Regions from separate parts of the Homo sapiens genome. Here region 2 is linked to region 1. The links come from fine-mapping of genetic effects on gene expression. Tissue or cell type: NK cells. Region 1 holds a variant in brackets; the other region holds the start of a gene. All regions are shown on one strand. Distances are between the middles of the regions.

What was found. PIP is the estimated chance that this variant, and not a neighbour inherited with it, causes the effect.
Region 2: ASB6 starts here. The variant in region 1 is fine-mapped to the expression of ASB6 in NK cells (Gilchrist 2021, PIP 0.90).

The regions. Positions count from the first base shown.
Region 1 is chr9:129,617,354-129,619,853 of GRCh38, reverse strand. C9orf50 (chromosome 9 open reading frame 50) reads left to right here. Exons shown (of 7, transcript NM_199350.4): 2 at 24-114; 3 at 218-334. It also overlaps a transcript of NTMT1 not described here. Among named protein-coding and RNA genes, the nearest start is that of C9orf50, 2.5 kb to the left of the region's middle. The variant AC/C (reference allele first, on the strand shown) is at 985.
Region 2 is chr9:129,640,724-129,643,394 of GRCh38, reverse strand. It overlaps ASB6 (ankyrin repeat and SOCS box containing 6), which reads left to right and starts at 1,244. Exons shown (of 6, transcript NM_017873.4): 1 at 1,244-1,508. The coding sequence starts at 1,396. RefSeq lists a silencer at 878-1,477 and an enhancer at 2,184-2,671.

The DNA.
Region 1 (2,500 bases):
CAACTGTTTCCTCCTGGCTCCAGCATCCCCAGCACCGCAACATCAAAGGGGTGTATTAGAGCACTGCCCAGGGTCTCCGCGGTGTCCCAACTGTTCATTCCTCCCAGACCTGTGGTAAGCGTCAGTCCGCTTCTTGGTGGGGACGGGGTTGCCATCGATGTTTCCAGGGCGGGACAGCCTGGCCACTCATGCCAGATGTGGCCTGTTTGTCTTTAAGGGGCCAGTCATCGCACCTCCAGGATAGTCTTACGAAGATTTCGCTCCAGCAGACACCTATTCTGGGGCCCCTGAAGGGTGATCACTCACAATTCACCACTGTCAGAAAGGCCAACCAGTGAGTGATGGGCGGGATAAGGGTAGGGTAGTGGAGGAAAGGGGCATTTCTTTCCTTCTTTCTTTCCTCTTTCGCCCATGAATGTATTCATTTATCCACCTATCTACCCATTCATCCATCCTTACATATGGCTGTCCGTGAATCAGATCTTCTACCAACCCATTCAAGATTCATTCGCCAGTTCATCAATGAATCAACCCATCCATTAATGAGGTCTTCTACCAACACATAATTCATCCATGAATCTATTCATATATTCATTTTCCCATTCACCCATCCATCTTTGCATCCATCTCATCCATGAACCAAGTCTTCTACAACCCGTTCATGAATCTCTCCATCTATCCATCCATCCTTCTGTCCACCCATTAATCTATCATGGACCCATGACTCCATCCATCCATACATTCACTCACCCACCCACCCATGAATCAGGTGTCCTGTGGATCCATTCATCTACCTGGCCAACCAGCTAGCCAGTCATCCATCTAAAACTCCCACACTTCGGCAGGGCACGGTGGCTCACACCTGTAATCCCAGCACTTTGGGAGGCTGAGGTGGGCGGATCACGAGGTTAGGAGATTGAGACCACCCTGGATAACACGGTGAAACCCCGTCTCTACTAAAAATATACAAAAAAAAAAAAAAAA[AC/C]ACAAAAAATTAGCCGGGCGTGGTGGCGGGCGCCTGTAGTCCCAGCTACTCGGGAGGCTGAGGCGAGAGAATGGTGTGAACCCGGGAGGCGGAGCTTGCAGTGAGCTGAGATTGTGCCATTGCACTCCAGCCTGGGTGACAGAGTGAGACTCCATCTCAAATAAAAATGAAATAAAATAAAATAAAATAAATAAAAAATAAAACTCCCACACTTCTATCCATCCATCCATTGATCCAATGACCAACCATCTACAAATCCTTCCATCCACTTGTAAACCCAGGACACTGTCCATCGCTAATCTAGTCATAAAGCCATCCACAAACCTACATACCCATCTACATAATCATCCAGCCACGCATCTGTCCATCTACCCATACATTCATAGTTCAGTTCTATTCAGACCCTTTCATTAACTCACCCATCAGTCCATCCACCCATCAACCCACCCACCCAGTCTTCCATCATTTTACCCATCCCACCATCATTTGTCCATTTCTTACTCTAACTTTTATTAGGTTTTACTATATGTTGAATATTGGGAGAAAACTAAGGGATGGAGGTAAGAGAAGAGCCTAGGAATTGGAACCTACCTGGGCCTAGACACCATAGTTTTAACAGAGGAGGAAAAGAAGACAGAAACAGTTCCTCCAGGTTAAAATTCCTCCAGGCTTAAGCAGGGGTGAAGGGTGAATGGCACTGCCCATGAGTTTAAAGACCAGGGAGAGTAAATACATCACAAACATATCATTCTTCCTCATCTCATACCCACAGCAGACAAAACTAATGGATCATATTTCCCCACTGAGCCTCAGAACCATTCCTCACACAGTACTCTAGGTAGATACTCCTGATGGATCAGGGTAGGAACTAGAAATGGAACACATGGCCAAGCATGGTGGCTCATGCCTATAATCCCAGTGCTTTGGGAGGCTGAGGCAGGAGGATCGCTTGAGCCCAGGAGTTTGAGACCAGCCTTGGTAACATGGTGAAACCCTGTCTCTACAAAAATTACAAAAATTAGCTGGGCGTGGTGGTGCATGCCTGTGGTTCCAGCTACTCGGGAGGCTGAGGTGGGAGGATTGCTTGAGCCTGGGAGGTTGAGGCTGCAGTGAGCCAAGATCGTGCCACTGCACTCCAGCCTGGGTGACAGAGCAAGACCCTGTCTCAAAAAACAAACAAACAAACAAAAACAGTGAAACACATTTACCAACCTCAGAACGTTCAACCAATCAGGCCAAATATACACATGACTTCTCACAAGATACAAATAAATAAAAGTATGGAATTCATTCTCTCAAATGTGAGCAAAAGCAGAGACAAACACAGTTACAGACTTTCACATTCAAGAGCAAATACTTGAGCACCTTACTGTGTGTGAGATTCCCTGGTAGGCCCTGCAGGGGACACTGTGGTGCCTCAGAACAGGCTCCAGTGGCCCTCGAGTGAAGATGCTGAGATTTCAGGCAGGTGGGCAGAGCTGGGTTATGCCTTTGCCTGGCCCAGCAGCCAGCAGA
Region 2 (2,671 bases), 23 kb before region 1:
GCCTCCCAAGTAGCTGGGATTACAGGCGCCTGCCACCACGCCCGGGTAATTTTTGTATTTTTAGTAGAGACAGGGTTTCATCATATTGGCCAGGCCGGTCTGCAGCTTCGAACTTCTGACCTCAGGTGATCCACCTGCCTCGGCCTCTCAAAGTGCTGGGGATTCTACCCATTTTACAGATGAGGAAATCCAAGTTCAGAGACAGGCGGTAGCACACTCCTGTGTTCCCAGCTTCTCGGGAGGCTGAGGCGGGAGGATCACCTGAGCCCAGGGGTTCAAAGCTGCAGTGAGTCATGATCACTACACTACACTCCAGCCTGGGAGACAGAGTGAGACCCTGTCTCTAAAAAATACACAAGATTCGGGCTGGGCACCGTGGCTCATGCCTGTAATCCCAGCACTTTGGGAGGCCGAGGTGGGAGGATCACGAGGTCAGGAGTTCGAGACCAGCCTGGCCAATATGGTGAAACCCTGTCTCTACTAAAAATACAAGAATAAGCTGGGCGTGGTGGCCAGCGCCTGTAATCCCAGCTACTCGGGAGGCTGAGGCAGGAGAATCGCTTGAACCCGGGAGGCGGAGGTTGCAGTGAGCCGAGATCGTGCCATTGCACTCCAGCCTGGGCAACAGAGCGAGACTACGTCCCCCAAAAAAACAAAAACAACAACAACAAAAAACAAGATTCACTGAGTCCATCAAGGCAGAGGTGGAGAGGGCTAGCAGCCGTCCTGGCCAGGTGCTCCCCGGGACAGAGAATAAGAAACTGAGGAGGGGACGTGCGAGTACCCTGGTCCTCATCATTCCAGTCAGCGGGCCGGGTGGTGACAGAGGTGGCCCAGCCCCTCTTCAGGGAAGGCGAGGGCCAGCCCGAACCGGAAGGGGCAGTGTCTGATGACCACAGCTCTCAGGGGCGCCCAGGGCCAGTGGGGCAGCGGCAGGGCCGAGAGCACGACCGGCGGAACTCGGACGGCGCCCAGCGGTCGCGGGCGGGATCGCAGGGCGAAGCCGAGCCGGGCCGGGCCCTGGCAGGAAGGGGCGGACCCGCCTGAGTCTCGGATCTGGCTTGGCTCGATCCTCCACTCTCCCACTCCGCTGGGGCCGCCCACTGGACATCGCCCGAGTCGGCCTGGCGGTCGTGCCCCAGGACGCGCCGAGGTCCTCCGAGCCCGCAGGGGGCGCTGTCGCCATATGGCCCACCCTGAGTCGGCGCGGGCAGGAAGTACGAGGGTCACTTCCGGCGGGGGCGCGGCTTGGACTGAGGAGCGGACCCGGCCGGGCGCAGGGGCTGGACTGGCGGAGCAGGTGGGGTCCGCGGCCGCCGGAGCGTTCCGGTCGGCGTCTGGGCATCTCGGCCTCGGCAGAAAGCGCGACGGCCCTGCTGCGCGGGGCCCGCGGCGATGCCGTTCCTGCACGGCTTCCGGAGGATCATCTTCGAGTACCAGCCGCTGGTGGATGCGATTCTGGGCTCCCTGGGGATCCAGGACCCCGAGCGGCAGGAGTCTCTGGACCGGTAACTCACCCCCTCCCGTGAGCTGGCCGAGGCCGCTCCGACCCCGCAGCGTCCCACTTTATCACCACAAGCCGGGCGGGGTGGATGCGTCCCCCTTGACAGAGGAAGGGACGGGCGGAAGCCGGGGTTGCGTGGCTCGGAGTGCGCGCTGCCCCGCGCGGATCCCACTCCTGCCCCTTGCATGGCGGAGACGAAGGGCGGGGAGGGCCCGAGGGCGGAGGCCCGCGGGTTGTCGCAGGGCCTGCGCCTCAGCCCCACCCTGTCGCCTGCCTGTCCTGTGCCACCCCCCGGCGTGGCAGAGGAGCAGGGTGGAATCCGTGAGGCCTCAGATGTTACCCCAGAGCAGTGTGAAGGTGGGCTTTTGTAGCAGAGTTTGCGTTTTTATAGACAAGAGCTGGTCTGTCGTGGACCTGCAGGAAAGGGGTCGGGAGCGAATCTGCATTCACTGCCCATGGTACTAGGCACCTGGGGTCCATCAGTGGCTCAGCAAAACCCCCGCCTTCTTGGCGCATGTGCTCCAGAGGAGAGACTGACAAGTAATTGTACGGCGGCACGCGAGGTGGAAGGGAGGGGAGAGCAGAAGGAAGGGGCTCGGCTCAGGTGTTGAGGGGGTTGTCAGTTGGTATTTCCAACACGTGGTAATGATGAGTCTCGCCATCCAGGGACTCTGGTGGAAACGTAGGCTTTCTTCATCAATATCAGCTGAAGGTCTCAATGTGAGGGGAGGGAGGAGGCTGTGTTGCTGTCCTGGCTGCAGGTGTTGCCGGGGCTGGGGTCCTGCGGGTTTGAGGATGGAAGGGCTTTCTGAGGAAGAAGCATCAAAGTCGGGCTTGGGCTCTTGGCCTCCAGGCTGGTGGTCCCTTCAGTCCCAGCAGCCCAGGTGTGTGAGGCTTTGTACCTAAGTCTGCGACCGGACTCTGGGCAACGCGGGAGGAGAGCGCAGACAGACCCAGCCCATTCTCCGCAAATCCCAGTCTGCTCCCGTATTAAGAGATGCAGCGTGGCCCTCTCTCTACTTCAGAGCTTCCCCCAAGCCCCTGTGACCCACAGAGCCAGGGCCCTGCTTGCTGATGATGATAGCAGGACTAAAGCCCACCAACCCACAGGCTGCGCGGTCACCCGGTCCCACAGCTGTGCCTACCCTCAGCCTCTCTCCTGTCCCA